Linked DNA regions of Homo sapiens: region 2 is linked to region 1. Evidence: fine-mapped expression QTL. A gene starts in region 1. The other region holds a variant in brackets. All regions are shown on one strand. Distances are from middle to middle. Region 1 holds the start of NIPSNAP1 (nipsnap homolog 1). Region 2 overlaps THOC5 (THO complex subunit 5).

Region 1 (5,353 bases):
CTGAGTAGCTGGGACTACAGGTGTGTGCTACCATGCTCAGCTAATTTTTTGAATTTTCATAGATCCTCCTGCCTTGGCCTCCCAAAGTGCTGGGATTACAGGCATGAGCCACCACACGTGGTCCTAATCTTAAAATTATTATTATTTTTTTATAGAGACTGGGTCTTGCTCTGTTGCCCAGGCTGGAGCGCAGTGGTGCAATCATGGCCTGGCCTCCACTCCCCCCATGCCAAGCATAACAGGAGGCAACCACTAGTCAGTGGGTGGACATTCTTTTGGGGAGCTGTCCCTGCCCCTTTGGAAGTGGATAGAGCCCCTGCCCCCTGTGGGGTCTGCAGGCTCTCCACCCCTGCCAATGTCTGTGATCTGGGGGATTGTGGGCTGAGAAGGGATTAGTTTAGAGGGCGGGCAAAAGAGCTGGGCAGGGCAGAAAGAGGCCCCAGGATTTTCAGGCAGAGAAGTCAAAGGGGGATGAAAAGGGGAAAGGAGATGGTGGAGATAAAGTGTCTGCAGCTGACAGCCTTGCCCCTGTCTTCACTTGTAAGGAAGTTTGTTTCTTTGATGGTGATAAACCTGGCATGTGAATGCCTTTCCCCAGAGAATGCACCACAGAGGAGCACGTAACGTTGTATACAATTTCAGGGGGCTTACTGATGCAACCCCTTTGCAGAAATTTTAACAGTGAGAAAATTATGACAGTGAAAGTGATCTGACCTAACCGACTCCATTTTGCTTCTAACCCCCAAACTGTCCATATTCATTCCTGGGCATAGGCCAAACTTACAGTCTTTTTGTTTGTTTTTTGAGACGGAGTTTCGCTCTTGTTGCCCAGGCTGGAGTGCAGTGGCGCGATCTCGGCTCACTGCAACCTCTGCCTCCAGGGTTCAAGAGATTCTCCTGCCTCAGCCTCCCGAGTAACTGGGATTACAGGTGCCCGCCACCATGCCTGGCTAATTTTTTTGTATTTTTAGTAGAGACGGGGTTTCACCCTGTTGGCCAGGCTGGTCTTGAACTCTTGACCTAAACTTCTGATCCACCTTTGCCTCCCAAAATGCTGGGATTACAGGCATGAGCCACCATGCCCGGCAGCAAATTTATAGTTCAACTTTGAAACAAAGATAACAGCCCTCTCCCAAAATAAACCCCTTTCTTGCCTGGGGACCAGACTGCTTTTGTAAGACTAACAAATTAGCCACGAGATTAGAAATTACGGTTTAGGAGTCATGCAGGTAGTGGCCACAGATTCTAAACCTCCCCAGTTGCTCCTAGGGATAACATCACTACTGTAAAACCTAAGATTGGTGCTCAAGATATTTTTCCGATCCTGCACTCAATGGATCCGCTGGCGATACACAGATTAAGAAACCGGATCATCCGGTTTTGTGGCCCCCACCCAGAGATCCACTCAGCACAAGAGGACGGCTTCCACTCCCTATGATTGCATCTCCGACCTGACCAATCAGCACTCTCCACTCTCTGGCCCCTACCCACCAAATTATCCTTAATAAAACCCAGTCTCCGAATTTTCAGGGAGACTGATTTGAGTAATAATAAAACTCCGGTCTCCCATTCAGCCGGCTCTGCATGAATTAAACTCTTATTGCAATTCCTCTGTCTTGATAAATCCGCTGTCTGGGAAACGGGCAAAATGAACCCATGGGGTGGTTACACTGACCCTCTGCTGCACATCCCGGACAGCCTTGTTAAGAACCCTTGGTAGGCTGGGCATGGTGGCTCACGCCTGTAATCCCAGCACTTTGGGAGCACGAGGCAGGCAGATCACGAGGTCAGGAGATCGAGACCATCCTGGCTAACACGGTGAAACCCCGTTTCTACTAAAAATACAAAAAATTAGCTGGGCGTGGTGGCAGACGCCTGTAGTTCCAGCTACTCGGGAGGCTGAGGCAGGAGAATGGCGTGAACCCAGGAGGCGGAGCTTGCAGTGGGCCGAGATCGCGCCACTGCGCTCCAGCCTGGGCGACAGAGCGAGACTCCGTCTCAAAAAAAAAAAAAAAAAAAAAAAGAACCCTTGGTATTATTGTTCCACGCTCCCATTTTACCGAGGTGGATCCTGAGGCCCAGAGTGGGCAAAGGGCTTGCCAAGGTCGCAGAGCGCGCAGAGGATTAGAACCCTGACTTCCGTCCAGCACCTGCGGAGTTGGAGACGCCCACAGGAAACGCCCACCTGACCGGGTGAGTGAGGGGGCGGGCGAGCCGGAGGGGTGGAGTTTATTCGCGCCCCGCCTCCGCCACCAGGGCTTGGGGGCGGGGCCTTCCTGCAACCTTTGCGGCTCCAACATGGCTCCGCGGCTGTGCAGCATCTCTGTGACGGCGCGGCGGCTGCTGGGGGGCCCGGGGCCTCGCGCTGGGGACGTTGCGTCTGCAGCTGCGGCGCGGTGAGAGCCCGGCCAGGCAGGGATAGACGCGCGCGGGGTGGGGTGCAGGCGCGGGGGCCAGGGACTGGGTCGTGGGGGAGGGGCTGAGACTCCTCGCTTGGAATCTGGGGGTTAGAGGCGGGGCAGGATCAAGGCCTAGGGAGGGGTCTGGGCAAAGAATGGGGGAGGTGAGAAAGGGATGGGTAGGGTCTTTGTCCTGGTTGGGACCGGGCTGTGATGGGGACCTGATGAAAGATGGTGAGAAGGGCAGGTACTGGGCCCTGGAGAGTGGGAGAGGGCAGAAGACAGGAGGAGTGGCCCATTCCCAGGCGTAGCTTGTGATTTAACACCCACTGGGGGCTTCTGGTAGTCAGCTCCTCCGTCGGGAAGTTCTGTGGGAAAGAGATGATGGCAGGGGAGCAGTGGGGGATCCCCAGGGGCCATGGCTGCACAGACCCTTTGTTCCTCCACCTCGAACTGTACAGGTGGGGAAACGGACCTGAGAGGGAATGGGAGTTGTCCAAGGTCACCCTCCCTGCTGTGCCGTGGCAGCACCAGGTCTGGGACCCAGGCCTGCCAATGCGCCATGCACTTTGCACCCAACTGGTGGCCTCCTGGGAGTGGGAGTCTGGCTGGGCCATGTGCTCTCAGCCTGGGCTTTTGTTTGGGCCCTGCTCTGGGCTGAGCTAGGGCTTGGCCTCCCTGACTGGCCCTGGGCAGCCCCTCACTCCTTGGTCCCCACAGCCCTGTACTTCCCCCATCTCTGCATATATGACCCTGCACAGTTATGACTTGGTGCTTGTCTGTCTCTCTCACTAGACCATGATCTCATTTTTCTCTGTTTCCCCAGCCTCCCACCCTCAGAGGGCTCAGGACTGTGTATGGTCAAGGAATATTTACCAAAGAAGTGAGGCCACCTGTTCCCCCTCCCCCAACCTGTGAAAAGGAAGCAACCATCCCTCCTGCCCTGCAGCCCAGGAATGAAGCTGCAAAGTTCTGATAGTGCCTGCCATGAGATGTTACAGCACAGAGCAGTGGGGCTTTTGGACAGCTGGGAAAGAGGAGTGGCATAAGCGCCCCACCTAGACTGCCCAATAATTAGGGATAAAGCTGACACCGTGGGAAAAGCCTAGAGTTTGCCTGGCACTAACAGATCTAACTCAGACTTTGTAGGTGGGGTGACCTCAGGACTCTTTAAGCCTCGGGTTCCTCATCTGTAAAATGGGAGTAATCAGGATGTATCTCATAGGGTTGTTGAGGATTAAAGATGCTGTGGTTGGTCGGGTATGGTGGCTCATGCCTGTAATCCCAGCACTTTGGGAGGCCGAGGCAGGCAGATCACTTGAGGTCAGCAGTTCAAGACCAGCTTGGCAACACGGCGAGATCCTGTCTCTATAAAAAGTACAAAAATGGCCGGGCGCGGTGGCTCACGCCTGTAATCCCAGCACTTTGGGAGGCCGAGGCGGTGGATCACGAGGTCAGGAGATCGAGACCATCCTGGCTAACACGGTGAAACCCCATCTCTACTAAAAATACAAAAAATTAGCTGGGCGCGGTGGCAGGCGCCTGTAGTCCCAGCTACTCAGGAGGCTGAGGCAGGAGAATGGCGTGAACCCAGGAGGCGGAGCTTGCAGTGAGCCGAGATCCTGCCACTGCACTCCAGCCTGGGCGACAAGAGTGAGACTCTGTCTCAAAAAAAAAAAAAAAAAAAAAAAAGTACAAAAATTTCACCATGTTGGTGAAAACGTGTCTCTACTAAAAATACAATTAGCTGGGTGTGATGGCTCACCCCTGTAATCCCAGCTACTAGGAAGCTGAGGCAGGAGAATCAATTGAACCCGGGAGACAGAGGTTGCAGTGAGCCGAGATCACGCTACTGCACTCCAACCCGGGTGACAGAGCGAGACTCCGTCTACAAAAAAAAAAGATTCCGTGGTTGTGAAGTGTCTAGCACTTGACGAACATGCAGTAAGTGTTGCTCCTTAACCCCTAGCCTATGTTTCAAGCAATTTCTGCATGTGACCCACATAATGTTGAGGCTCAAAGGGCTCTGGGAAGATCATCTTTTATGAGCCCTTTGTTTTCCAGATAAAAATATCAAGATTGGGGAAGGGACAGAATGGATTGGTGGTAAAACCATTTGTGTGGCAAACACCCAGAGGCTGTAAAAGGAGCATGGGTCTCAGAGTCAGCCTGCTGCCCCTCACTCAGTGACCCTGGATGAGTTGCTGAACCTCCGTCAGCCTCAGTTTCCTTTTCTGTAAAGTGGGGATGTTGGTGTTTTCGGCAGGATTGCTATGAAGCCACTTGAATTAATGTTTATCAAGTCCCTCAAGGACTGTCTTGCAGTTACTTATACCTTAATTCCACATTGGATACCTGAGAACACTCTGTCCTGCTGCCCCTCAGGCTGCCCCATATCTCTCCAGAGTCACTAGTAGGGCCAGCAGCAGCCCTTCTGGCCTGTGAGGTTTGGGGGCAATGAGGCTGCTGGGGTGGGGATGGAGTGTGGGCTTTGAAATCAGATGGACCTGGGCCAGGCACCATTGCTCACGCCTGTAATCCCAACACTTCGGTAGGCCAAGGTGGGAGGATTGCTTGAACCCAGGAGTTTGAGACCAGCCTGGGCAACATGGCGAGATCCTGTCTCTATAAAAAATACAAAAATTTGGCCAGGCACAGTGGGTCATGCCTGTAATCCCAGCACTTTAGGAGGCTGAGGCGGGTGGATCACCTGAGGCCAGGAGTTCAAGACCAGCTTGGCCAACATGGTGAAACCCCATCTCTACTAAAAACACAAAAATTAGCCAGGCCAGGCCTGGTGACTCCCACCTGTAATCCTAGCACTTTGGGAGGCCCAGGCAGGCGGATCATGAGGTCAGGTATTCAAGACCAGCCTGGCCAACATGGTGAAACCCCGTCTTTATTAAAAATACAAAAATTAGCTGGGCATGGTGTGTGCGCCTGTAATCCCAGCT
Region 2 (5,373 bases), 36 kb after region 1:
GGTGGCTCACGCCTGTAATCCCAGCACTTTGGGAGTCTGAGGCAGGTGGATCACGAGGTCAGGAGTTAAAGACCAGCCTGGCTAAGATGGTGAAACCCTGTCTCTACTAAACATACGAACAAATTAGCCAGGCGTGGTGGCGGTAGCCTGTAATCCCAGCTACTCGGGAGGCTGAGGCAGAGAATTGCTTGAACCCAGGAGGCAGAGGTTGCAGTGAGCCAAGATCATGCCACTGCACTCCAGCCTGGGTGACAGAGTGAGACTCCATCTCAAAGAAAAAAAAAAAAGTTGATAATGATATGAACAATAAGGTCCAGCCTGAGGTGGTCTCAGATGGAGATGAGGAACTTATTGGAAACTGCAGCAAAGGTGACTCTTGTGTTTTAGCAAAGAGACTGAAAACATTTGCCCCTGCCTTAGAGATTTGTGGAACTTTGAACTTGAGAGAGAGGATTTAGGGTATCTGGTGGAGGAAATTTCTAAGTAGCAAACCATTCAAAAGGTGACAGGGCCATGTGCAGTGGCTCACGCCTATAATCCTAGCACTTTGGGAGGCCGAGGCAGGTGAACCACTTGAGGTCAGGAGTTTGAGACCAGCCTGGCCAACATGGCAAAACCCTATCTCTACTAAAAATACAATAAAAATTAGCCAGACATGGTGGTGGGCCCCTGTAATCCCAGCTACTTGGGAGGCTGAGGCAGGAGAATCGCTTGAACCCGGGAGGCAGAAGTTGCAGTGAGCTGAGATTGCGCCATTGCACTCCAGCCTGAGCAACAAGAGCAAGACCTTGTCTCAAAAAAAAAAAAAAGAAGTGACTTGGGTACTGTTAAAAGCATTCCATTTTAAAAGGAAAACAGAGCATAAAAGTTTGGAAAATTTGTAGCCTGATGACACAGTAGAAAAGAAAAACCCGGCTGGGCACGGTGGCTCACGCTTGTAATCCCAGCACTTTGGGAGGCCGAGCTGGGTGGATCACTTGAGGTCAGAAGTTCGAGACCAGCCTGGGCAACATGGTGAAACCCCATCTCTACTAAAAATACAGAAATTAGCCGGGCCTGGTGGCAGGTGCCTGTAATCCCAGCTACCCACTGTAATCTCCAAGCCTGAGGCAGGAGAATTGCCTGAACCTGGGAGGCAGAGGTTGCAGTGAACTGAGATCATGCCACTGCACTCCAGCCTGGGCGACAAGACCGAGACTCTGTCTCAAAAAATAAAAATAAAAAATAAAAAAAGGAAAGAAAAACCCATTTTTTGCGGAGAAATTCAAGTTGGTTGCAGAAATTTGCATAAGTAGCAAGGAGCCTAATGTTAATCCCCGTGGGGGATTAACACCATGGGGAAAGCGTCTCCAGGCCATGTCAGAGACCTCACGGCAGCCCCTTCCCTCACAGGCCCAGAGGCCCAGGAGGAAAAAGTGGTTTTCTGGGCCAGGCCCAGGGTCCCTGTGCTATATGCAGCCTAGGGACTTGGTGCCCTGTGTCCCAGCCAGTCCAGGCATGGCTGAAAGGGGCCAATCTAGAGCTTGGCCTGTGGCTCAGAGGGTGGAAGCCCCAAGCTTTGGCAGCTTCCAAGTGGTGTTAAGCCTGTGGGTGCACAGAAGTCAAGAATTGAGGTTTGGGAACCTCCGCCTGGATTTCAGAAGATGTACGGAAACACCTGGATGCCCAGGCAAAAGTTTGCTGCTGGCGCGCTCATGGAGAACCCCTGCTAGGGCAGTGTGGAAGGGAAATGTGGGGTCAGAGCCCCCACACAGTCCCTACTGAGGCACTGCCTAGTAGAGCTGTGAGAAGAGGGCCACCGTCCCTTCAGACCCTAGAATGGTAGATCCACGAACGGCTTGCACCATGCACCTGAAAAAGCTGCAGACACTCAATGCCAGCCCATGAAAGCAGCCAGGAGGGAGGGAGACTGTACCCTGCAAAGCCACAGGGGTGGAGCTGCCCAAGACCATGGGAAGCCACCTTTTGCATCAGCTTGACCTGGATGTGAGACCTGGAGTCAAAGGAGATAATTTTGGAGCTTTAAAATTTCACTGCCCTACTGGATTTTGGTCTTGCATGGGCCCTGTAACGCCTTTGTTTTGGCCAATTTCTCCCATTTGGAATGGCTATATTTACCCCCACTGTATCTACGAAGTAACTAGCTTGCTTTTGATTTTACAGGCTCATAGGCGGAAGGGGCTTGCCTTGTCTCAGATGAGATTTTGGACTATGGACTTTTGGGTTAATGCTGAAATGAGTTAAGACTTTGGGCGACTGTTGGGAAGGCATGATTGGTTTTGAAATGTGAGGACATGAGATTCGGAGGGGCCAGGGGCGGAATGATATGGTTTGGGATTTAAATCTCAACTTGAATTGTATTTCCCAGAATTGCCACATGTTGTGGGAGGGACCCAGAGGGAGGTAATTGCATCATGGGGGCCAGTCTTTCCCGTGCTATTCTCATGATAGTGAATAAGTCTCACGACATCTGATGGGTTTATAAGGGGTTTCTGCTTTTGCTTCCTCCTCATTTTTCTCTTGCCGCCGCCACATAAGAAGTGCCTTTCACCTCTCGCCATGATTCTGAGGCCTCCCCAGCTATGTGGGACTGTAAGTCCAATTAAACCTCTTTTTGTTCCCAGTTTCAGGTGTGTCTTTATTGGCAG[C/T]GTGAAAATGGACTAATGCAGATGGGAAGTTGCACTTAACAGCACGGACAGTATGATCCCGTTTTGTTTACAAATAAAATGTTTATTTATCCACAATCTTCACTCAGTTTCGGACTGAGAGGCGAAATTATAGGCAATTTTTCCATTTTCTTTTTGATACTCCTCTGTATATTCTGAATCTTTGATACCAGGCATGCATTACTCTGCAATCAGAAAGCAAAAGAGGTTTCTATTTTGAAGAGAAGAAAAGCATTTAATTTAAGGACCAGATCTTTTAGAGACCTGACTGAGGCTTCATTGTTACTGTTTTTATCTAAAAGGAGATGTCAGCCAAGTGTCCCTGATCCCAGCAGGGAGACTTTTACCCCATGCACACAGAGCCTTTATCCTTACCTCTACAGGAAGGTAAATACTACAGTGAGGAGGCCGAGGTGGATCTGCGGGACCCTGGCAGAGACTATGAGTTATACAAGTACACCTGCCAGGAGCTACAGAGGCTGATGGCTGAGATCCAAGACCTGAAGAGCAGGGGTGGCAAGGATGTGGTAAGGAGTGGGACCAGGTGGCCGTGAACCTGGTGGGTTTACATAGATGAGGCTGTTTTTGCACCTACCAGGGCCCTTCCTGATCTTGATCTTCTGTCCTAGCCATGATCAGGTGATTGGAGCCTGAGGGCTCCCAAAACCTGTGAATTTATTGGAACTTCTTATCACCATTCAGTCACCAATTACAGGAATGAAAGTACAGGATAATTAATTTTTTCCCTACTAATTTGATCATTCATCCAATTAATATTTATTAAGTGCCAGGCATTTTGCTAGGTGTTGAGAAATGATGGTACTTATACATTTGCTTGATACAAAGATGGATGTGTACAAGTAAATTGTAGATACCAAAAATGAAATTATCATTAATAGTAAATGAATAAATGAGGTTTTAGGGGCAGAGAAATTAAACAATGTGACTAAAAACTCGATAGATAAGTTTTTTAAAATCCATTTTTTCCCCCAGGAATCTCACGTATTTGTGCTTATGCTGACAAGTTTTGTTAGAATTATTGCATTCAATCTATTCTAGCCAAGCTTTATGGCTATAATTCTGTTATTTTCCATTTAAGTTATCCTGTAATGTTATTTATAGAGGTCAAATTTTATGACAAGATGTTACTATTGCTGGGATCTCTGTGTAGGATCTGTAGAGATAGATTGTGCCTTTGCTGCCCTTATTCCATCTTCAATTCCTGTTACTCTAGTCCAAGCAGAAATTACTTTTTTTTGCCCGAGATTCTTAATCATTTTCCTTATACAATCATCCTCTTATTTTCTTCATGACCCTTCTCATGGTTCTGAGCTCCCTCCGGTGCCGTTTTTGGCCCCAGATGAGGATGGGTCAGTGGTGAAGGACTGAAGGAAGCTGAGCTAGCCCTGTCGTCAGTGGGCTTTACTGTTTTCTTTGCCCACAGGCAATAGAAATAGAAGAACGGAGGATCCAGAGCTGTGTGCATTTCATGACTCTAAAGAAGCTTAACCGATTAGCCCACATCAGGTTGAAGAAAGGAAGAGATCAGACCCACGAGGTAGTAGTTAAAAGGTTTAATTTTAACCTTCCTCCTTCCTCCTCCCCATCCCCTTCTTTTTTTTTTTTTTTTTTTTTTTTTGAGACAGAGTCTCGTTCTGTCCCCCAGGCTAGAGTGCAGTGGCACGATCTCAGCTCACCACATCCTCTGCCTCCCAGCTTCAAGCGATTCTCCTGCCTCAGCCTCCTAAGTAGCTGGGATTACAGGCACCTCCCACCACCATGCCTGGCTAATTTTTGTATTTTTTAGTAGAGATGGGGTTTCACCTTGTTGGCCAGGCTTGTCTTGAACTCCTGAGCTCAGGTGATCCACTCGCCTCGGCCTCCCAAAGTGCTGGGATTACAGGCGTGAGCCACTGCACCCAGCCCCATCCCCTTCTTTATTCCCTTTACACCTTCTCTTAGTTTGCTGACCCTCTCCTCTGCTCCATCCTGACTTGCCCTGCTCACTTCTGATCGTATTTTCCTTTCAGGCTAAGCAGAAAGTAGATGCCTATCATCTGCAGCTCCAGAACCTGTTGTATGAGGTGATGCACCTACAGAAGGAGATCACCAAATGTTTGGAGTTTAAGTGAGTTTGGGAGGACAGGGCTTTGGCACATGTGGTCTTTCGGTAACTGCTTTTTCCCATGTAGCTCACTGTAAGTCTGTTTCTTTTTTTTTTTTGAGACGGAGTCTTGCCCTGTCACCCAGGCTGGAGTGCAGTGGCGCAATCTCAGCTCACTGCAACCTCCACCTCCCGGGTTCAAGCAATTCTCCTGCCTCAGCCTTCTGAGTAGCTGGGATTGCAGGCGCCCACCTCCACATCCAGCTAATTTTTGTATTTTTAGTAGAGACGGGGTTTTGCCATGTTGGCCAGGCTGTTCTCGAACTCCTGACCTCAGGTGGTCCTCCCGCCTCGGCCTCCCAAAGTGCTGGGATTACAGGCGTGAGCCACCGCTCCCAGCCTAAGTCTCTCTTTAAAAAGAAATCTGATGAGCTTAGAAAACTGTAGGATCTGGGAGAAGGGCAAATTGCAAGGGTGAATGTGGGAGAATTGCAAGCCGTGATTTCAGGCTGCATAAAGAACCTCAGAAGTCTCTCTGACCTTTTTGAGTTTTGAGCTCTGCACTTGGTAAAAAGCAGGTCTCTCTCCCTATCAGGGGTCTTT

Evidence for each region. PIP is the estimated chance that this variant, and not a neighbour inherited with it, causes the effect.
Region 2: its variant is the best candidate, but not a certain one, in a credible set for the expression of NIPSNAP1 in whole blood (INTERVAL, PIP 0.51).

What each region holds. Positions count from the first base shown.
Region 1 is chr22:29,578,028-29,583,380 of GRCh38, reverse strand. It overlaps NIPSNAP1 (nipsnap homolog 1), which reads left to right and starts at 2,268. Exons shown (of 10, transcript NM_003634.4): 1 at 2,268-2,396. The coding sequence starts at 2,299. RefSeq lists a silencer at 2,462-2,511 and an enhancer at 2,495-3,107.
Region 2 is chr22:29,542,280-29,547,652 of GRCh38, reverse strand. THOC5 (THO complex subunit 5) reads left to right here. Exons shown (of 20, transcript NM_003678.5): 3 at 3,050-3,193; 4 at 4,111-4,224; 5 at 4,697-4,794. Among named protein-coding and RNA genes, the nearest start is that of THOC5, 8.8 kb to the left of the region's middle. The variant C/T (reference allele first, on the strand shown) is at 2,649.